2 separate regions of the Homo sapiens genome follow, and region 2 is linked to region 1. The links come from fine-mapping of genetic effects on gene expression. A gene starts in region 1. The other region holds a variant in brackets. All regions are shown on one strand. Distances are between the middles of the regions.

Region 1 (10,384 bases):
GGGAAGACAAGCTGGGCAGTCTGGCTTAGTCATCCGTGCCTAGTAAACGCAGGGAATGTGAGTCACCCTCCCCACCCACCGTGATGGCCTAAAAATGGCTGGAGGGTCAGACCCTGGCCAACACTGGTCAAAGCACAGAATGCTGGGCCACCCACATTACCACTGCCACCACGGTCAAGTGGCAGAGTTCACTAAAATGACCTGTGACCCATCCAGAGACAAAGTAAACACGGGCTGGGAACCATCTGAAAAGTCAACAACAAGTCTCAAACCTCTGGACTCGGGGCAAGCTCATTTCCTTAGGTCCTCTTTCAGTTTCTGCTGTGTACTCTGGGAGTCACCTAAATACTATGTCAAGGCTGCAGTTATTCAAATCAATAAGCGTATTTACTGCCTTCCTGATTGGCTTCCAAGTCAAATATTAAAATCTTTCTTGCATCTGGTGAAGACACAGCTATGGTGTAACAGCTATGGTGTAACAGATCAAAGGAACCAAGTATTTGAACATCTAAAGTAAGCTTGGAACATAAGGTTACAACTAAGTGACTCCATGAGTCCCTGAAAATAAGATCTCAGTTGTCTGAGAGTCATCCAACAGAATGTCCTGTGAGGGCAGACACGCTCCTCTGTACTGCCTAACAGCAGGCACCTGAAACGAGGCTAGTGGGACTGAAAAACTGGATTTTAAAATTTAATTTTCAATGAGTTAGCCATACGTCGCTAGTCCCTACCATACCAGCAAGACAGTGCAGCTTCAGACGGTGAAGATGAGAATCTTTTGAACAAAGGATCAATTACCTTCTGGAATGCAAACGGACACTTATGTGCAGCGTATGGAAAATGATCTTTACAGAAATCTTGTTTACATGCATCACATTTTACTGGAAGAAAATCTAAAAAACAAAAAACAGGGAAGTGTTTTAACGACTGGAACAAAATACTTCCAGATAGTACTATCAAAGTGTTTACCTACACTAAGTGTTTTAGGCCTATGAGATGGACAGGTCCTCGAGGGCCACACATGTGAAAACAATCCCAGGGTCAGGCTGTCTTCTAGAGACCCCCTATGGCATCGCAAGTATTCCAGCAGCCCCCTGGATCCACCTGGCCCTGCTAGCCAGCCTGCACTCCTGCACCCAGCCTCTGGTGGATGCTAAGTGTCAAACAGAACCTGCACCAGCACAGTTCCCAATACTGAGGAGCCAGGAAGGCCAAGACACAATTATCAGCTAATTAACAGAACAGCCAGCTTTCCCCCAACAAAATACCATTTTCTATTAAGTCTCTTAAAAGTACTCACCTAGCTGCTTGCAAGTCTTTTCTGAACAATGCTTCCCCAAATCAGGAAACTCCATTATGAGAACAGTGCTCAAAACGCAGATGGCGGAGTTAAGTGTCACCTACAAGAGAATCAGAATAGTTAGGAGGAAAGCTGGACTGCCCTTCAGTCACCAGGATTTACAATGTAATTACAGCTAATGAAAGTCAACAAACGCACTGTGTGGGGAGCATTCCATGGAGTTTTAGTACAAATACCAGGTGTCCGCCATTCGTAGTCAACCCCATTAAGAGACACGGACTCCTTCACAGGCCTTTTAATTCCTAGTCTATGAAGCACTCCTTGAACTCGGGTTTCTATTTAAACTCACACTGAGGGGGCGAGAGCTAATTCACACAGCTGCCAGTGATGATTACGACTTTGGTGAATTTTAAGTCACAATTTTATCCATGGAATATACTTGTTCACATAAACAAAACTCTGTTACTAGGTGCTAAATCACATCAGTTGACTCCATTATCCAGAGAAGATTTAACTCTGTCCCTCGCCTCTCTCTTCAACTCCCTTAGGCATTGAATCTTACTGTGAACTTATTCCTCGATGACATCAACCTGGAGTTGATCAGGGAGAAGCGCAAGCTGTTAAGTCACTATGGAAAACAGGCAGACAGCTGGTGAAACTACCGCACTCGAGAGAGAATCAAGGGGCTCACGAGGTCCCCTCCATGATCTAGTACCCACCAGCCCTCCCGGGGCCTTTTCCTGGGGCTCACGAGGTCCCGTCATCTAGTACTCACCAGCCCCTCCCGGGGCCTTTTCCTGACCTTCCCATCAGCTCTCTCCCCACTCCTGGAGGCCTCCTAGACTGTCGCCTAAGACTGGAACACTCTCGCCCATGGCAAACGTCTAGTTATCCCCTCCCGCCTCAGTTTAAAGCCATTCCCACCCTCCCCAGTTCCCTCTATGTTACACGCCCGCTACTTAAGGTGCCCATTAGTCCTTTCCCAGCCCTCCTTCGCCCACAGCTTCCAACTACAGATCCGCTGCTTTACTATTAGCTCCCGGTGCCCGACACACAGCAGGCGTTCCGAAATTGTTTTGTTCAAGGAATTCACAAGAGTTTGATGTGAATCCCCAAATGATTTTGTTCTGGACGCACAGCACCCGTCCTAGGAAACCAACACCCTACCCTGGCGGGCCGGGCCCGCAGCAAGAAAACACACATCTACGTGGCTGTCACTCGGCTGGCGGGTTAACGACCCCGTGCGACCCGGTACTACGGCCCCGATGGCAGGCCCGGCCCCCAGCAGACAGCCGGACTCCCAGCAGACAGGCCGGACCCCCAGCAGCCAGACCCCGGCAGGCCCGGTCCCCAGCAGACAGCCGGACCCCCAACAGCCAGACCCCGGCAGGCCCGGTCCCCAGCAGACAGGCCGGACCCCCAACAGCCAGACCCCGGCAGGCCCGGTCCCCAGCAGACAGGCCGGACCCCCAGCAGCCAGACCCCGGCAGGCCCGGTCCCCAGCAGACAGGCCGGACCCCCAGCAGCCAGACCCCGGCAGGCCCGGTCCCCAGCAGACAGCCGGACCCCCAACAGCCAGACCCCGGCAGGCCCGGTCCCCAGCAGACAGGCCGGACCCCCAGCAGCCAGACCCCGGCAGGCCCGGTCCCCAGCAGACAGGCCGGACCCCCAGCAGCCTGACCTCCAGCAAGCAGCCGGACTTTCAGCAGCCGCACTCCTAGCAGACAGGCCGAACCCCCGAGCAACCTGACCTCAAGGCAGGCCCGACCCCCGGCAGACCCTGTCTGCGCAATCCCGGCCCCGTACCTGGCTCTCGTCGGGGACCCAGGCAGCTGAGGTGAGCAGCAGATGGAAGAGACGTAAACTCAGGTGTCCTCCTCCGTAGTCGGCTCCGGGTAGCTAAGCAGAAAGAACCTCGACACTGGCACCGAGACGCCGTCGGAGGCACACCCACACCCACACCGGAACGCAACATCTCGCTGCCCGCGGCCTACGGGGATTTATCCGCAGCCCCCGGATCTGAGAGCCGTCTGGGCCTTGGGGTTTCCGGGCGCGCCCCGACAACGTCACCCGCAGACCGGCCAATCCCGCCAGGCCGCGGCCCAGTGGCGCCGGCGCACACCGAAGACGACACCAGCCATCCGGCCAATCCCGCCCCGCCGCGCCCCGCAGGCCCGCCCACTCCTCGCTTCTCCACTTCCCTTCTCGAAGTGTCCGGTCGCTTCTCGCAGGCGGCGCGCTTGCTGGGTCACAGTGAGGCGGCTCCGCGCAGGCGCAGCCGGGCGGGCGAGGAGCGGGGAAGCTGACTCAGGGCTGCGGCCGGGGTCCTGCGGGGTAGGAGCGCGAGGCCGGCCTGAGGGAGGAGGCCTAGCGACCCATCCGGCGCCTCCCGCCCCGGGCACCCGCCCGCGGCCGCGCATCCTGCGGGCCCCAGGAGGCCTCCATCTCAAAACAACGTGTTTTTAGGTAATTTCAAACTTAGGGAAAAGCTTCAAGAATAATACCGAAAATGTCAGTGTCCCCAGCACCTAGATCCCCCAGTTAAATCCTTTTCCATTTCACCGCGCTGCCCCCCGCCCCCTGGACGGTTATGTGGCCGCGTGGGGTTGGCTCTGCCCAGGGCCGCGGTCACTGCACAGAACGCCCTGCACGTAAGGGGCTCCGCCTGGGTAAGACCCCGCCCAGCTGGGCAGGAGGAGGGCGTGGGCCCAGGACATGGAGACCAGCCTGGGCAACATAGCGAGACCCCATCTCTGCAGAAATAAAATATTAGCCGGACGGTGCACGGTGGCTCAGGCCTGTAATCCCGGCACTTTGGGAGGCCGAGGTGGGAGGATGGCCTGAGGTTAGTGTCTCACATGTCTGTGTGAAGAGACCACCAAACAGGCTTTGTGTGAGCAACAAGGCTGTTTATTTCACCCGGGTGCAGCCCGGCTGAGTCGGAAAAGAGAGTCAGCAAAGGGCGATGGGATTATCATTAGTTCTTACAGGTTTTGGGATAGACGGTGGAGTTAGGAGCAATGTTTTGCAGGCAGGTGGTGGATCTCATAAGGTACATTCTCAAGGGTGGGGAGAATTACAAAGAACCTTCTTAAGGGTAGAGGAGATTACAAAGTACATTGATCAGTTAGGATGGGGCAGAAACAAATTACAAGGGTGGAATGTCATCAGTTAAGGCTGTTTTCACTTCTTTTGTGGATCTTCAGTTGCTTCAGGCCATCTGGATGTATACATGCAGGTCACTGGGGATATGATGGCTTAGCTTGGGCTCAGAGGCCTGACAGGAGTTCAAGACCAGCCTGGTGAACATGACGAAACCCTGTCTCTACAAAAATAAGAAATGAACGCAGCATGGTGGCATGCACCTGCAGTCCCAGCCTCTTGGGAGGTGGAGGCATAAGTCAGCTGTGAATGCGCCCTGCACTAGAGCCTGGGCAGCAGAGCAGACCCTTCCTCAAACCCAAAAAGCGTCGTGCCAACCAGACCAGATGGTCGCCTAATCAATAGAGACCATGCCCAATCAGGTAAGGACAGACACAACCAGGCATGCTTTTTCTTGTTTTGTTTTTTGTTTGTTGTTTTGAGATGGAGTTTCACTCTTGTTGCCCAGGCTGGAGTGCAGTGGTGTGATCTCGGCTCACCGGAACCACCACCTCCTGGGTTCAAGCGATTCTCCTGCCTCAGTCTCCCAAGTAGCTGGGATTACAGGCATGCACCACCAGGCCCGGCTAATTTTGTATTTTTAGTAGAGACGGGGGTTTCTCCATATTGGTCAGGCTGGTCTCAAACTCCCAACCTCAGGTGATCTGCCTGCCTCGGCCTCCCAAAGTACTGGCATTACAGGCGTGAGCCACTGCGCCCAGCTTGTTGTTTTTCTTTAGACAGTGTCTTCCTCTGTGGCTCAGGCTGAAGGGCACTGGGATGATCACAGCTCACTGCAGCCTCCACCTCCCAGGCTCAAGCCATCCTTCTTCCTCAGGCTCCTGAGTAGCGGGAGCTACAGGCATGCGCCATCATGCCTGGCTAATTTTTGTATTTTTTGTAGATACGGGGTTTTGCTATGTAGCCCAGGCTGGTCTTGAACTCCTGACCTCAGGTGATCCCTCTGCCTCAGCTTCCCAAAGCGCTGGGATTACAGAACATGAGCCACTGTGCCCGGCTTATTGTACAGTCTTTACTCTCGGTTTTCACCAGAGAACTCAAGGGCTGTGAAAAGAGCAGGACCTCACCAGCTGCACGGCGGTGGTGACTGGCTCCATCTTGCTGTCCCTCCCAATCACACAACATCTCCCCTTGAAGGCTCTGCCCAGGCCCGGACTCCCACCTTTCAAGATGTCTGGATCAGTGCAGGACCTCCTCCTTGGCCACATCGCTCTCCTTGGACTGGTTCGTTAACCCTGTTTTACCCACATTTTCTTTTTTTTTCTTTTTCTTTTTTTTTTTTTTTCTGAGACAGAGTTTCATTCTTGTTGCCCAGGCTGGAGTGCAATGACTCGGTCTCGGCTCATTGCAACCTCCGCCTTGCAGGTTCAAGTGATTCTCCCACCTCAGCCTCCCAAGTAGGATTACAGGTACACACCACCACGCACAGCTAATTGTTTTGTATTTTAGGAAGAGATGGGGTTTCATCATGTTAGCCAGGCTGGTCAGGTGATCCATCCGCCTTGGCCTCCCCAAGTGCTGGGATTACAGGCGTGAGGCACTGTGCCCGGCCTGCCCCCCTTTTCTCTTGATGTAAGTGGACATTTTAATCCATAATCTGTAACATTTATGTATTAAGTTTACTACTATCTTTGGTTTGCAGTGTTGACTCACCTGTGGAGTGGTCTGAGCCTGAATGCCCGGGGCTGTGGCCACCGAGTGAACGGGCTGTGCTAAGGGGAATTGCCACCTTGGGAAACCTGTGTAGTTGCGGCTTTTCTGATTAAGTATCAATAAAAGTCTGACCTTGTGAAAAAAGCAAACGTGAGTGGCCCTGCTTATGTTTCACCTTGCGTTGCTCAGTGATAGTTCTGCAAAGTCGCAGGAAACCTGGAATCATCTAATTATCGTGAGTGTTGGTGAGTAACACCCATAGGCACTGGCTCCCGGGGAAATACAGAGTCAGGTTCCTCCGAGCCGCTGGCCACAGCATTTTTGTTAAGCAGTTCATCGTTAACCTTGTTGTACATGTCTCTCTCTCAAGGTTCCTTATTTAATAATGTCTAGTTGATTCATTAACATGGAATTCATGGCCAGTACCTCTGTCACTCATGCCTGACTGAAGTTGATCAGCACGTCTTTTTCTCCCTTAGGCACATGACAGCCTTCTTGCAATCAAGAAACTACGTGTGGCCAGGTACGGTGGCTCACGCATGTAATTCCAGCACTTGGGGAGGCCAAGGCGGGTGGATCACCTGAGGTCAGGAGTTTGAGACCAGCCTGACCAGTATGGTGAAACTCCTTCTCTAGTAAAAATACAGACATTAGCCGGGCATGGTGGTGCACACCTGTAATCCCAGCTACTCGGGAGGCTGCGGCAGGAGAATCTCGGGGGTGGAGGTTGCAGTGAGCTGAGATCGCCCCACTGCACTCCAGCTTGGGCAACAGTGAGACTCCATCTCAAAACAAAACAAAACAAAAAAATTGGCCAGGTGTGGTGGGGGGCGCGGCGCACCTGTAATTCCAGCTGCTCAGGATGTTAAGGCAGAAGAATCGCTTGAACCTGGGAGGTGGAAGTTGCAGTGAGCCTAGATTGTGCCACTACACTCCAGCCTGGTTGACAGAGTGAAGCTCTGTCTCAAAAAAAGAAAAGAAACAATACTAAGTTCTGATTCTCAGACCCCATTCAGTTTTTTTTTGTTGTTGAGACGGAGTCTCGCTCAGTCGCCCAGGCTGGAGTACAGTGGTGCGATCTTGGCTCACTGCAACTTCTGCCTCCTGGGTTCAAGCGATGCTCCTGCCTCAGCCTCCTGCAGATTTTACAGACAGTATCAACAATGTCTCTTTTCCTTTCCGCTCCAGGATCTCATCCACTATCACAGTTTCAGCTTTCCCCAAACTGGAATGTGTCTTTGCAGACGCCCATCCTTATTAAAGGGCAAAGACTTCTCATACACCTAGGATGGATCTTATATTCTTGGCGGGACTGCAGAGAAGGTGCCGTGTCCTGAGTCCTCATGTCAGGGCACAGGCTTCCAGCCAGTTCTACCTGGGTTATGTTTATCTCAATTCCCTGGTGGTATTGGTGTCTGCTGGGTTTTGCCAGAATGAAGACACCGTGTTTTCATTTGTCAGTTGATTCGTATTTTCCAGGAAGACATTCTGAGATTACAGCATTGTCTTAGTCAAGGTGCTGCAGAAGGACAGAACTAATAGGATATATGTACATATGAAAGAAAGTTTATGAAGAACTGGCTCACACCATCACAAGGCAAAGTCCCATGACAGGCCATCTGCAAGCTGAGGAGCGAGGAAGCCAGCAGTGGCTCAGCCGGAGTCCAACAGCCTCAAACGGAATCCAACAGTTCAGGCTTCAGTCTGTGGCCAAATGCCCAGAGACCCCGGAAAGCTACTGGTGTTAGTCCCAGAGCCGGAAGGCCAAAGAACCTGGAGTGTGATGTCCAAGGGCAGGAGGAATGGACAGAAGCATCCAGCATGGGGTAAAGACGAAAGCCAGAAGACTCAGCAAGCTAGCTTACCTACTTTCTTCTGCCTGCCTTGTTCTAGCCGCGCTGGCAGCCGGTTGGAGGGTGCCCACCCCCACTGAGGGTGGATCTTCCTCTCCTAGTCCACTGACTCAAATTTCAGTCTCTCTGGGAGCACCATCACACCAGAAACAATACCAGCCATCTAGCCACCCTTCAGTTCACCATCACAACCATTGTCTTATTCATGAAACTTCTGCAGACCCACCTTAACCTCCATCGGTGACTTCTACCTGAAGCCCTCTGATTGTTGCCCAGTGGTGCTTTTTAAAATAATTTCCATAGTTTCTTCTACACCTTTAGTTGGCATTCTACTGTAAAGGAGAGATTTTATTTTCTTACTCATTTATTTGTTAGTTTATAGTCACCACCATATGGATGCAGAGTTCTGTCTCATTCACTGGGAAGTATTCTATTGCAGTCATGATTTATTTTGATGTTCACATCCCAGAGTTGGTGAGTGAGCGCCCCTTCACGCTGGCTCCCGAGTGCTGACGTGTCCCCGTCCTTCTCTGCACTTTTCCTTACCTCCTGGCCTCAGATATTCCAGGGTCATTTGTTCTCTCCCTGCTCCAACCCTGCAGTCAGCCATCTCCCTAGGGACGTTGGTTCCTTTATGGAAGGTGGCATTTAGAAGCCAGGATTTGGGCTGAGCACTGTGGCTCATGCTTGTAATCCCAGCACTTGGGGAGGCCGAAGTGGGCGGATCGCTGGAGGCCAAGAGTCTGAGACCAGCCTGGCTAACATGGTGAAACCCTTCCCCGTCTCTACTACAAATAAAAAATTAGCTGGGTGTGTTGGCACGTGCCTGTAATCCCAGTTACTCAGGAGGCTGAAGCACCAGAATCTCTTGAACCCAGGAGGCCGAGGTTGCAGTGAGCCAAGATTGCACCACTGCACTACAGCTTGGGTGACAGCGCGAGACACCGTCTCAAAAAGGATAATAATTTAAAAAACAGCAGGATTTGGGTGAGCAGTGCGCTCATTGCTTCTGGGCTCTCTCGGTGGACATAGGCTAGGAATGTAAGATGTATGTGCCTGTGTATATACACACGTCTGTAGCTATGTCTATGTTGCATACATGTGTTTTTCCAAAAACCAAATCCATAACCATGCCTTCAGTTTCAGCCCAACACCTCCGGGCTCTTTCTAGCTTTCTACCTTTCATGATTGTGAATACCTTCTCCAGCAGTGAGAAACCTGGCTCCTTTGTCCTCAGTGGATTTTCTTATTTGCTCAATTTTTTTGTTTTTTGTTTTGTTTTTGTTTTTGAGACAGAGTCTTGTTCTGTCACCCAAGCTGGAGTGCAGTGGCATAATCTCGGCTTACCGCAACCTCTGCCTCCTGGGTTCAAGCGATACTCCTGCGTCAGCATCCCGAGTAGCTGGGATTACAGGCATGTGCCACCATGCCTGGCTAATTTTTGTATTTTTAGTAGAAACGGAGTTTCACCATGTTGGTCAGGCTGGTCTCGAACTCCTGACCTCGTGATCTGGGTGCCTTGGCCTCCCAAAATGCTGGGATTACAGGCGTGAGCCACCACACTCGGCCAAGTCAGAATTTTAAGTTTCATCTTTTTTGTAATTAATTGAACACCTGCATTCAAAGAAACAGAGAAGTACCACCACGCATAAGTAAGGTGGCCATGGCGTACCTAGGTTTCTCAGCCTATCAAGCTTAGGGGCTTCTTTTTACGTGAAGTCCTCCTAAGACAGCCTCTGATAGCTGCCTTGTGGTCAGCAGGGAAGAAGGGCCTTGTAATAGCACGACTCTGCAGGGAGGCGGGCAGCTCTCATGGCCTTAGTTTGCAGACCTCGAGATGTCCACTAGAAAGGAGGAGATCGTGGCTGGCTGCGGTGGCTCACGCCTGTAATCCCAGGATTTTGGGAGGCCGAGGCAGGCGGATCACGGGATCAGGAGATCGAGACCATCCTGGCTAATGTGGTGAAACCCCGTCTCTACTAAAAATACAAAAACTTAGCCGGGCGTGGTGGCGGGCGCCTGAGTCCCAGCCACTCGGGAGGCTGAGGCAGGAGAATGGCGTGAACCCGGGAGGCAGAGCTTGCAGTGAGCCGAGAATTGCGCCACTGCACTCCAGCCTGGGCGACAGAGCGAGACTTCGTCTCAAAAAAAAAAAAAAAAAAAAAAGAGGAGGTCGCAGCGTCTCCAGTAACACATCAACTCCGCAACAAGGGGCCACAAGTGTTCCTCGCCAACGGGTCCCTGCTACGATCCCTATTTTAAATAAGGGGAAACTGAGGCGTGGAGGGGGTAAGAAACAGAGAAGTCAGAATTCAAACCTGGACGACGCCTGTTAGTTTTTTGGGATTACAGGGGTAAGCCACTGTGCCCGGCCACACGTGTTAGTTTTTTGGGATTACAGGGGTAAGCCACTGTG
Region 2 (12,768 bases), 150 kb before region 1:
AGTGGAGTCCTGTGGGTGGGGAGTCCTGTGGGTGAGTGGAGTCCTGCGGGTGAGTGGAGTCCTGTGGGTGAGTGGAATCCTGTGGGTGGGGAGTCCTGTGGGTGAGTGGAGCCCTGTGGGTGGGGAGTCCTGTGGGTGAGTGGAGTCCTGCGGGTGGGGGGTCCTGCCGGTGGGGAGTCCTGCGGGTGGGGAGTCCTGTGGGTGAGTGGAGTCCTGTGGGTGAGTGGAGTCCTGCGGGTGGGGAGTCCTGCGGGTGGGGAGTCCTGTGGGTTAGTGGAGTCCTGTGGGTGGGGAGTCCTGTGGGTGAGTGGAGTCCTGCGGGTGAGTGGAGTCCTGTGGGTGGGGAGTCCTGTGGGTAGGGAGTCCTGTGGGTGTGGAGCCCTGTGGGTGGGGAGTCCTGTGGGTGAGTGGAGTCCTGTGGGTGGGGAGTCCTGTGGGTGAGTGGAGTCCTGTGGGTGGGGAGTCCTGCGGGTGGGGAGTCCTGCGGGTGGGGAGTCCTGTGGGTGAGTGGAGTCCTGTGGGTGAGTGGAGTCCTGTGGGTGGGGAGTCCTGTGGGTGAGTGGAGTCCTGTGGGTGGGGAGTCCTGTGGGTTAGTGGAGTCCTGCGGGTGGGGAGTCCTGTGGGTGGGGAGTCCTCTGGGTGAGTGGAGTCCTGTGGGTGGGAAGTCCTGTGGGTGAGTGGAGCCCTGTGGGTGAGTGGAGTCCTGTGGGTGAGTGGAGTCCTGCAGGTGGGGAGTCCTGTGGGTGGGGAGTCCTGTGGGTGAGTGGAGTCCTGCGGGTGAGTGGAGTCCTGCGGGTGAGTGGAGTCCTGTGGGTGAGTGGAGCCCTGTGGGTGAGTGGAATCCTGTGGGTGGGGAGTCCTGTGGGTAGGGAATCCTGTGGGTGTGGAGCCCTGTGGGTGGGGAGTCCTGTGGGTGAATGGAGTCCTGTGGGTGGGGAGTCCTGTGGGTGAGTGGAGTCCTGCCGGTGGGGAGTCCTGTGGGTGGGGAGTCCTGTGGGTGAGTGGAGTCCTGTGGGTGAGTGGAGTCCTGTGGGTGGGGAGTCCTGTGGGTGAGTGGAGTCCTGTGGGTGGGGAGTCCTGTGGGTGAGTGGAGCCCTGTGGGTGAGTGGAGTCCTGCGGGTGAGTGGAGCCCTGCGGGTGAGTGGAGCCCTGTGGGTGAGTGGAGTCCTGCGGGTGGGGAGTCCTGTGGGTGGGGAGTCCTGCGGGTGAGTGGAGTCCTGCGGGTGAGTGGAGTCCTGCGGGTGAGTGGAGCCCTGTGGGTGAGTGGAGCCCTGTGGGTGAGTGGAATCCTGTGGGTGGGGAGTCCTGTGGGTGGGGAGTCCTTGGGTGAGTGGAGTCCTGTGGGTGAGTGGAGTCCTGTGGGTGGGGAGTCCTGTGGGTGAGTGGAGTCCTGCGGGTGGGGAGTCCTGTGGGTGAGTGGAGTCCTGTGGGTGGGGAGTCCTTGGGTGAGTGGAGTCCTGTGGGTTTGGAGTCCTGTGGGTAGGGAGTCCTGTGGGTGAGTGGAGTCCTGTGGGTGAGTGGAGTCCTGTGGGTGAGTGGAGTCCTGTGGGTGGGGAGTCCTGTGGGTGAGTGGAGTCCTGCGGGTGGGGAGTCCTGTGGGTGAGTGGAGTCCTGCGGGTGGGGAGTCCTGTGGGTGAGTGGAGTCCTGTGGGTGAGTGGAGTCCTGTGGGTGGGGAGTCCTGTGGGTGAGTGGAGTCCTGTGGGTGGGGAGTCCTGTGGGTGAGTGGAGTCCTGCGGGTGGGGAGTCCTGTGGGTGAGTGGAGTCCTGTGGGTGAGTGGAGTCCTGTGGGTGGGGAGTCCTGTGGGTGAGTGGAGTCCTGCGGGTGAGTGGAGTCCTGCGGGTGAGTGGAGTCCTGTGGGTGAGTGGAGTCCTGTGGGTGAGTGGAGTCCTGTGGGTGGGGAGTCCTGTGGGTGGGGAGTCCTGTGGGTGAGTGGAGTCCTGTGGGTGAGTGGAGTCCTGTGGGTGGGGAGTCCTGTGGGTGAGTGGAGTCCTGCGGGTGGGGAGTCCTGCGGGTGAGTGGAGTCCTGTGGGTGAGTGGAGTCCTGTGGGTGGGGAGTCCTGTGGGTGGGGAGTCCTTGGGTGAGTGGAGTCCTGTGGGTGAGTGGAGTCCTGTGGGTGGGGAGTCCTGTGGGTGGGGAGTCCTGTGGGTGAGTGGAGTCCTGCGGGTGGGGAGTCCTGTGGGTGAGTGGAGTCCTGCGGGTGGGGAGTCCTGTGGGTGAGTAGAGTCCTGTGGGTGGGGAGTCCTGTGGGTGAGTGGAGTCCTGCGGGTGGGGAGTCCTGTGGGTGAGTGGAGTCCTGTGGGTGAGTGGAGTCCTGTGGGTGGGGAGTCCTTGGGTGAGTGGAGTCCTGTGGGTTTGGAGTCCTGTGGGTGGGGAGTCCTGTGGGTGAGTGGAGTCCTGTGGGTGAGTGGAGTCCTGTGGGTTTGGAGTCCTGTGGGTGGGGAGTCCTGTGGGTGAGTGGAGTCCTGTGGGTGAGTGGAGTCCTGTGGGTGGGGAGTCCTGTGGGTGAGTGGAGTCCTGTGGGTGAGTGGAGTCCTGTGGGTGGGGAGTCCTGTGGGTGAGTGGAGTCCTGCGGGTGGGGAGTCCTGCGGGTGTGGAGCCCAGCTGTGCAGCTGCTAGGTGACACGCCAGCCCCATGTGCAGTGACGCAGGGCTCCTGCGTGATGAGAGGGGCCTCCAGGGAGGTTTAATTTTAGTTCCTTTCTTTTTAGACAGCCCCTCGTCGTCTGCTCCCCGGATGGCCGACCCGGCCAGCGTGGGCCCCTGTGAGGTGCACCCGGGCCAGCCAGGCCATGGCATCTGCCTGCTGGGGGCTGTTTTACTGCTGCAGGGCAGAAGTTGGCATCTCAGCTCTGCCACTTTCTAACTCTCCCACCTTGAGCTGCTGCTTTCCACCAGCCTGTTTCCTCCTTGGGAACGTGGAGTGGTGACCCCACTTCACGGGTGTTCCCAGAGCCCACGCACGGTGAGTCAGTCACAGCTGCTCTGCACACTGCCCTCCCATGGGGCCCGAGGCCACAGCACTGCTGGCCCACGGCACTGCTGCCTACGGCCCTGAACCAAGGGCGCCTCTCTCTCACCGAGCCCCCACCAGGCAGACTTCAAGCCAAGCCCATCTCCCTCACCACCGAAGATGAGCCGTCCCGCTCTTGGCCTCGTCACTGGGGGAGCAGACACAGCGAGGGGCGGGTGGGGTGCTCAGTGTCGCCTGTGGCTCCCACGGCACTGGGCGAGGCCTCCTGAGTGATGGCCGCCTCTGCCACCCACCCTGGGGACTGGTCCCTGCGCAACTGCAGACAGTTCACAGGATGCCTGACACAATCCTCTTTCTCTCTGCCTAGGTGGGGCAGCAGACAGGAGATCCCATCTTGGAAAAGGAAAGAGAGCAGTCAGAGGGAAGTCCCTTGTCCCCAGCATAGCGGGGGCCACGGCCACTGCAGGGTCATCTGTCCAGAGCTGCCTAGAGCGTCCCAGAGAGAAGAACCTCCTCCCCTGTGGTACTCACCAGCTGGGTGGAGAACCAGAGTCCCTGCTAGCCTACTGGGCTTTAAAAAAAAGCAGGGGCGGCTGGGAACAGTGGCTCATGCCTGTAAGCTGAGCACTTTGGGAGGCCGAGGGCGGATCACAAGGTCAGGAGACTAAGACCATCTTGGTTAATACGGTGAAACCCTGTCTCTACTAAAAATACAAAAAATTAGCCGGGCGTGGTGTCGGATGCCTGTAATCTCAGCTACTCAGGAGGCTGAGGCAGGAGAATCGCTTGAACCTGGGAAGCAGAGGTTGCAGTGAGCCGAGATTGCACCACTGCACTCCAGCCTGGCGACAGAGTGAGACTCCATCTCAAAACAAACAAATCAACCCACAAAAAGCGGGGACTTCTTGCTGAACCCCCTTCCAAAAGAAAACTGAGCGAGGGTCTCTATTGAGACAGCATCTGAAGCCGGCCCGCAGCCACAGCGTCCACGTGCTCGTAACTGCACCAGGAACTGCCAGCCGCGGTGAGCTGACGACCCAATGCCCATGAAGGCCCGAGCGGGGCTGGCGCGGACAGGGGCCGGGTCTCATGGGTTGGCCGCTCCTCCCATACTTGGAGCTGGGCTGTCCCTCGGCAGCGGGGCAGTGGGCCTGGGTAGGGAAGGACACCCAAGAAGTGTCCCCTAAGCTCCGCTGATGGGACAGTTTGGCCTCTGCTCTGGCCTGTCATTCCAGGGTTCCAGGCCCGGAGGCCACGGGGTGCAAGGAAGCTAAGACACCATGCTGTGCTGGGCAACATGGGGACCTGAGGAGGGTGGGCTTGGGCTGCCCCACGGCAGGAGTGACTTGCTCTCGTCCTCCCGCAGGTGAGTGGGGGACCCCGTCCCGGCTGGATCCGTGTGGCCCGGGTCCCAGTTCCTCTCTCTCCTGTGGGGGCACCACCTCCCGCCTCGAGCAGACCCAGGCAGGGGGCCGGCCCCCGAAAATGGTGAGCTAAAGCCTGCAGGGACCAGGGAGGCAGCGGTCACCTCGCCACCTGCCCCCAACGTGAACACCCAGCAGGCGTGTTCTTTTCTTTTTTCAGTTATATGGAAAGTAAATCTTCAATTTCCTGCGTTAAGCATATAAATAAACTCTTTTTTCTCTTTAATGAGGAACAGGCTTGCCCGCTGACAGCCGTGTGCCTCGCTC[G/A]TGTAACTACCACAGTGGACCCAGCAACCCAGAGACCCACAGAAAGTGGAGGGACTGCTTCCAGCACTCCCAAACTTCCGCCTATGCAAGGCCAGAGCAACACGGCTCTGAGCTGGAAAAACAGAGCTGGGTGACCAAGCCTGGGGCCCCTGCTGGGAAAACGAGGGGACAGTCACAGCACAGGGAAAGAGCACACGACGGCCACAGTGCAGGGAAAGAGCACACGACGGTCACAGCACAGGGAAAGAGCGCACGACAGCCACAGCGCAGGGAAAGAGCGCACGACGGCCATACTGCAGGGAAAGAGCGCACGACGGCCACAGCGCAGGGAAAGAGCACACGACGGCCACAGCGCAGGGAAAGAGCACACGACGGCCACAGCGCAGGGAAAGAGCGCACGACGGCCATACTGCAGGGAAAGAGCACACGACGGCCACAGCGCAGGGAAAGAGCGCACGACGGCCACAGCGCAGGGAAAGAGCGCACGACGGCCACAGCGCGGGGAAAGAGCGCACGACGGCCACAGCGCGGGGAAAGAGCGCACGACGGCCACAGCGCGGGGAAAGAGCGCACGACGGTCATACTGCAGGGAAAGAGCGCATGACGGTCACAGCGCAGACAAAGAGCGCACGATGGCCACATTGCAGGGAAAGAGCACACGACGGCCACAGCGCAGGGAAAGAGCGCATGACGGCCACAATCCCCCATCCCACCCTCTGGACCCTCCTCTCCCCAGCCCTGCTGCACAGCTCCCACCAGCCCCAGCTTCACACAAAGCCAGGAGCACCCCAGGAAGGCTGCAGAGAAGATGAACCCTTGAGATGCAAGAACAGCCCAGGGTATGGTCACAGGTCACAGGCCAAGGTCACCGTGTGGGGATGCTGCCCAGCCTGCGACCCGGGTTCTAGGGACGGGGCATGAAGACCCCACGGGCGCTGGGTCGACGTGTCTTGGGGGCAGAGCCTTCGGGGGATCTGGAGGGGAGACCCCCAGGGCATCCTGGAATGGGTGGGGTGCCTCCCAGAGAGATGAGAGGAAACTCTCCACCATGAGGGCTCACCAGAACAATCCGGGGTCTCCTCCACACACAGCCCACCTGGCTGCAGATGGCTTTGCCTCCAGGAGGAACCCCTCGTGGAAAGCCCATAAGATGGCCATGGGCCACGGCGGCCAGCATGTCCTTCCTGAGTCCCAGTCCAGGGCCTCTGCAGGGGGAGGACAACTCGGGCACCTACCTTCACCGCTGCCCCTGGGCTGGGGGCTCTGTGGTGGGCCAGCCGTGGCGTGGCCAGTGGTCCCCAGCAGCCCCCAGGCTGAGGACACTCCCCTGTGGGAATCCCCGGGCTCCCTCTCTTTGGAAAACCCTGAGTTGCCAGGGATACCGTGGGCTCCACACATCCACGTGGGCTCTGATCTGGCAGCCAGATGCGGCTGGGCTTGCGGGCACCCTTGGAGACCCCCAGGAAAGAGGAGAAGCTCCTGCCGGGGTGCCCGTGTCTGTGGCTGGCCTCCTGGTGTGTGGATCCCAGGCCTTGGAAGAAGCTCCTGTGGGAAGGGGCTGCTTTGTTTCTGAGAAGTAAGAGTCCCCCCTCCTCCCACACGCAGGACACAGTGCCTCCGCACAGGACTTGCCGCTGGGGGGTTGCGAGTAGCATGAGGGGGCCACGGGAAGGTCCCAGAGGGGGAGAGGAGGGTGAGGCTGAGGACAGGAGCAGGGCATGCTCCCAGGCACTCAGGACCTTCCCGTGGGGTGCTCGGAGGGTGTGTGATCATGGGAGGGGAGTCAGGGCGCCTCCAGGGTGAAGACCAGGGAGTGGCAGCCACGTGGTGGAGCGGATGGTCCCCCCTCTCCTGCCCACGTCCCCAACGTCCCCCTTGTCTAACAGTCCACACTGAGAGCAGCGGAAGGTGCTGGCAGGCCTGGGGAGGAAGGCGGACAAACCCCGCCCACCCCAGGCATCAGGGCAGGTCCAGAACAGCCACGCCCCGAGGCACCTGCCAGTGGAGACAGGCAAGGTGCAGGTGGCACAGCTGCAGGCCCCAGTCGCCCTCTGCCTCCCACAGGGAGCCTACAGTCCATTCCTGCGGCTGGCACCTTCCAGGCCTGTGTCCACCTGCTCTGCCCAGCCCACACCTTGCCCACACCTGGGCTCGAGACGCTGCACTAACGGCCTCTGAAGCCCTCTCTGTCTACAGCGACTGACCCTGCGGTGGCTTGTGGCCCTGCCTGCAGAGAAGCAGGAGCAAGCGCAGGAGGCAGCAGCCTCACACCACAGCCAGCACCTTGGGTCCCCTGGGCCAAGCGCGTTCTTGGAGCAAGAAAGAGCTCTTGGGGTAGCCCTGGGCACCTGGCCTCAGCCCCACGTTCCTCAGGGAGAGGGAAGCTAAGCCTCCCAGAGAACTGACCAGTGCAGAGACCCATGATGACTCAACTGGTTCCAGCCGGATCCACCCAACGCTATGGCTGAGCTCATTCTATGACCCCCAAGGCAGCCTCAGCTCCGAGAAACAGGAGGCTTGCCCCCATCCCCATTTCCTGAGCCCGGCGCTGAGCCTGGTGCAGGGCAGCCAAGAGCCCCTCTCCTGTAGGTGGAGGACCGTCCTGGGGATGCACACACAACACACATGTCCACACATAAACACACACGTGCATAAACACACACGCACACACGCACATGTACACACGTGTATACATGTACACACGCACATATACACAACGTGTATACACACGCACACACGTAAACACACGCACACACGTGTACGCAACACTCGTATACACATGCACACACGTACACAACACACGTATACACATGCGCATACATGCACACGCACACCCCCTCATGCGAACACACATGCGTGCACACACACCCATGCGAACACACATACACGCACACACACACACATACACATGCACACACGTACACACATGCACACACGTACACGTGCACGTGCACGCAGCGTGCACATCCACGCAGGCCCCGCTGCTCATTCCGCTAGCTGCACAGCCACACTGGGGGTCATCTCTCCGAGGAGGTCATCTCTCCGAGGGCCTCCCACAGAGGTGCGGCTGGAGCCTGTCCTCCCAGGCAGGGCCAGTGCCCCCACAGGACACCCTGCCCCTCAGGGTGACTTCATCACAGGGACCCAGTTCTTGTCTCTGAGGAAGCCAGCCACGTGGACGCCGTGACACCCCTTATTCTAGGTGCAGTCAGCACTCAGGGAGACGGACAGGAACGGGCAGCAGCCTGTGCTGGTAAGCGCCGGGGAGGTGGCCACAGCCCGCAAGGCTGTGGAGCCCACGCCAAAGCCTCTGACCCCTGCAATCCTGCACCGTCCACCCAGCCACGCCGCAGGCACCATCCACCCAGCCACGCCGCAGGCAGCCAGGGAGATGGCACCCTGTGCCCAGCACCCCACAATCCCCGTCTTCCCGCTCTTGGGTGGCAGTGGCGCCTCCTGTCACTGTGAGTGAGGGCTGAAGGCCACCACGAGTTCCCTCCTCCTCACCCCCACGTCCAAGCAGCACCCAGGCCCGTGGATTCTTCCTGTGGTGACGTACACCTGGGGCAAGGTTCACCATCAGACCCATTTCTAAAAGCACAGTTCCAGGCAACCCCTGCACGGGCAGCGGCTCTGCTGCCGCCCCTGAAAGTTCCTGAAGGCTCTGGGCCATTCAGACAGAAAGGGCAGCGGCGGCAGCACAGGCCTGGCATGAACGCTCATACCTCACTGCTCTAGAACCTTCCACACAGTGTGTGCGAGTGAAGGCTTCGACCCCCTCAGGCAGGGGTTGAGACGCACGTCCGGGACAGAACCGCGTGGGGCAGGGCCGCTCACCTGCAGAGGTAGTCCAGGGCCAGTTCGGCCCCCGAGCGCCTGGCAGGCGGGTGCTGGGCCACAAGGCCTGCCTCCCGCAGACGCTGCCTCTCCTCTTTCTTCCGTTCCTTTTTCAGCTTCCTTTCCAGGACCCTCTGCTCCTCTGGGGACAGCTCTGGCTCTGCGTCCAGCCCGGGCCTGAGCACAGCTTCGCCCTGAAAGTCAAGGAACACATTAGGCTTCGGGGATGGAGGGTATCCAGAGACGGGTGCGCTGCCTGGGGCTTCCCGAGCCCACCCTCACCTCAGTAGTGGCCAAAAGCTCTGTCCCCAAGCACTGGGTCTGGCCCCAGCCGACACCATCCTGCTAAGCCTGTGCTACGACGAAGAGACAGACAGGTCACATGAGGATGGCCAGTCCTGCGGGCAGGCGCCAGGTGCCAGGATTAACTGCCCAGAGGCCCCTTCCCCACCCCCGTGGTCCACCTCCCACAGACTCCCGGCTCCCGAGGCTCTGTGAGGTCCTGCCCCACCCCACACAGTGTGGGAAGATCCGGGCCGGCCCCCAGGGAGGGCTGAAGGTGTGCTGGTGTCTGTTATCACACAGGCCAGGTGCTGGCCCCAGACCCGACCCAAATCCCGAGGACGGTGCCTGGGGCCTGCTGCTTTCTGGCAGGTCACTGGCTGCCTGGCTCCCCCTGGGCTGCAGGCTGGGGACAGGGAGGGGGCCAAGACCCCCAAGGGAGGGAGAGGGCCCGCTGTGACAATGTGTCCCCAGCCACATCTTGCCAGGAAAGCACAGGCCCTCCGTCTTGCCCACCCTCCCCTCATTAACAAAAGAAGAGGACGGTGCAAAGCGTCAAAGCCGGGGCAGCCGGGCCACGGGGTGACCATGAGGTGACCCCAGCCGCTGTCCACATGCTTCGTCTTTTTTGGAAAAGTCAGAACATCAGTGTAGACTCCGAGCAAGGCCAGGAGCCCAGGGAAACAGCTAGGGGCGTGGGAATCAACCAGGCAGCGCCCACCGGGAGCTTCCAGGAAGGGAGGCCGGGCACAGCCCACGCCTACGCATCCCACCCCAGGGAGAGCAAAGAAGAGTGAGGCAAGCCCCCCTACATACAGATATATATGCAACCCACCCCCCCGACACAGACACACACATTCACAGACTTCACCCCTACAGCCAAACACAGCCCCCAACCCTCACCCATGTACCCACACCGACCCACACCCACCCACACCCACCATACACCCACACTCACCCACCCACACCCACAGACACGGACACATACCCACACCCACAGACACCCACATACCCACCCACCCATACCCAACACACCCACACCCAGATACCCACACATAGACCAACACCCACACGCCCAGACACCCCCACATGCCACACACCCACATACAACCACACACACCGACACCCACACACATCCAACAAATCCACAGACACCCAGACACCCACAGATACCCAAACACCCACAGACACCCAGAAACACCCACACACCCAAACACGCCCACAGACACCCAGACACACCCACACCCAGACACACCTTCACACGCCCAGACACCCTGACACACCCACACCCAGACACCTGCAGACACCCACAAACACCCAGATACCCAAACACACCCAAACACATCCACACACCATCCCAACATACCCACAGCCACACACGCCCACACCCAGATACACACCCAGACACCCACAAACACCCAGATACCCAAACACACCCAGAGACACCCACAGATGCCCACACACCCAGACACCCACAGATACCCACACACGCCCACAGACACCCACAAACACCATACACACACGCCAACACACCCACAGCCACACCCCTAGAGCCTGCCAGGGGTCCGCAGCAAGAGACAGGGCCTGGGGGACGAGGAGCACCGTCCCTGGCAGATGCCTGGCACAGAGAGGCTGAAGAGTCCCGGTGGGAAGGCCTGGGCCGCCCACACACACAGGCAGGAAGCTCTGAGACCCACCAGGCCAGGCACGCAGGGCTCTGGGGAGCAAGATTTTCATGGTGGGGATGTGGACACCCCCAGGGGAGCCTGGTGACTGACCGGCTCCAACCAGCTCCATGCTCACCTCCTAGGCCCACAGCCGCCCACAGCCGCCAACGGGGCAGGCACAACAACTGGCCCTGAAAGGTAAAAACCCTCCTGGCACAGGCCCAGCCTCGGCCCCCACTCCATGGGCCACGCAGTCCACGGCTGATCACACGGGCCAAAGTCCATAACACTGTTAGGGCTGCACAGGGGCCGCCGCGGTGGCCGAGGGTCTGTCAGCCCACATGCGTGGGGCACCCGGACAGGCCCTGAGCAGGTGGGCAGGGCCCTGTGGTAGGGTCCCAGGTTGGTGGCCAGAGTGGTGAGGACGGGGCCAAGGCTGTGGGCAACAGCAACGTGGGCGCTGGCCTGGGGTGGATGGCGAGGGGAACCCAGGCCGTCCCATATCGGGGCCAAGCCGGGGACCCGCAGGCCCAGCTGTTTCCCGCAGGCTTCCTGAGCGCCCGGTGCAGGGCTGCTTCTTGTGTCAGGCACCAGCCTGGATGCTGCGGAAACAGCTTCCTTCACACCCACTCTTGCTTCTGGCCACCAGCGCTCCCGACCTGGCAGGAGTCACAGCCCAATTCCCGTGTCCCCGAGGGAGCCACTGTGGCCACGAGGTGGGAAGCTCAGGAGTGCCACCCACTGCCCTGGGCTGTGCCTGACACTGGCCGGTGCACCTTTAACTTTTCCAAACTCCTGCTTTCTGTGCTGGGCCTCAACAGAAGACGCAGGGGCAGCTGGAGTGAGGGTGCTGCGCCCGGAGAGCCAGGGGCCTTGGGGGTGCCCGGCTCCACTCTGCGCCATCGGCTGCCCCGTGCTCGCGCTCGCTGCCTTGGGGGTGCCGGCTCCACTCCGTGCCATCGGCCGCCCTATGCTCGCGCTCACTGTCCTGGACCAGGCAATTCCCCAAGGCTGTGACCACGACGTGAGCGACCTCAGCTATCTTGGGATGACACAGGCGGGCCCCGGGAGGGTGTGCAGCTGGAGGGGGCGGGAGGCAGCAGGTCCAGGCAGGCTGGAGGGCACAGGCCGCGGCAGGTCGTGGGGAATGGGAGCAGCGCGGGAGGGTGGTGGGGCCGCCAGGATCGGGCGTGGTAATGCCGGGACCTGCTGCTTGCTCTGCTTGGCCTGCACAGTGTCTGGCCCGGAGAGCACAGGTGAGCAAGGTAGGACGGCTGTCACCCACAGACGAGCAGCGGAGAACTTTCTCTAACTGCCACCCACGTGCCGACCCTCCAAAGAACGCGGGTTTCACTAGCAAATAAGAACGTGGGTTTAATTAGCAAATACTTTTAACAAACTTGACACTATCACATAGAGCTCCCAAAGTTGCCCCAAGGGCTTGTAAATTACCTAAGTACACACCAAAAAATTTTTAAAAGAATCCCAGTGTCAAATAAAAGCCTGTGAGGGCCCCTTCTAGGGACTTGAGTTTCAGGCCTAGGATGCAAAGCCTGGCGCAGCAGCCAGGGGTGACTCCAGGCTCCTGCCGGCTCCAGGATTCTGGGAAGGGGCAGACTTTGGGCCCCCTGGAGCCCCTCTAGGCCCAGTGTCCACCCCACAGACCCTGCAGTCTGGGGCCACTCTTCTGGGAGAGGTGTTGTGGGCGGCTTTGAGCCGACGCTGTCAGGGCAAGAGTCTCTCTCCTAACATGAAGGCTTTCCAACACAGATGGGACGGGCCTCATGGAAGGAAGCACCGGCCTGTCACAGACGTGTGATGTCTAAAGCCGGCGTCTCTGGACCATCCCAGGGCAAGCAGAAAGTCGTACAAAAGTACAGTCACCCTATCTCAATGCTAGGACAGTCTTCAGCATTTCAGACTTGATGAAATACAGACACTCATATGAAGTACAGAAAAATAAAAATTCCAGCCACACATTCTGTCTCCTGCGGTTAGATGTCTTGAGGATTACATTTGAAAATGCATAAAACAATTCAATGTGCATGAAAAGCTTTACGCAGGACCTGCACCCACACAGATAAACTGCGACCCCGAGGACTGGGATGGGGAGGCGGCCAGCGGGCCTGTCACTGCACCTACGCTGTGTATTTCACAACATGGACACTTCCACAGGCTACCTCAAGCAACGCGGCACTCGTGCAGTCAAACATGAAATCCTTACCATCAGGCAATGAAAATGTTCACTGTACTCAACAAATACACTGAAAACAAACCACAAAGCCAAACCCTACAGGCTGGGAGGAGCAAAGTGGAT

What was found. PIP is the estimated chance that this variant, and not a neighbour inherited with it, causes the effect.
Region 2: its variant is fine-mapped to the expression of ZFAND2A-DT in thyroid (GTEx, PIP 0.98).

The regions. Positions count from the first base shown.
Region 1 is chr7:1,156,858-1,167,241 of GRCh38, forward strand. It overlaps ZFAND2A-DT (ZFAND2A divergent transcript), which reads left to right and starts at 3,517. Exons shown (of 3, transcript NR_110069.1): 1 at 3,517-3,766; 2 at 5,495-5,686; 3 at 7,304-9,101. It overlaps ZFAND2A (zinc finger AN1-type containing 2A), which reads right to left and starts at 3,339. Exons shown (of 5, transcript NM_182491.4): 1 at 3,107-3,339; 2 at 1,301-1,400; 3 at 799-893. The coding sequence starts at 1,355. RefSeq lists enhancers at 2,441-2,955, 2,956-3,468, 3,469-3,982, 3,983-4,495 and silencers at 3,278-3,817, 3,828-3,877.
Region 2 is chr7:1,001,448-1,014,215 of GRCh38, forward strand. It overlaps CHLSN (cholesin), which reads right to left. Exons shown (of 5, transcript NM_001318252.2): 3 at 8,503-8,696. It overlaps LOC124901570 (a long non-coding RNA gene), which reads left to right and starts at 2,712. Exons shown (of 3, transcript XR_007060184.1): 1 at 2,712-2,965; 2 at 3,342-3,998; 3 at 4,341-4,624. The variant G/A (reference allele first, on the strand shown) is at 4,666.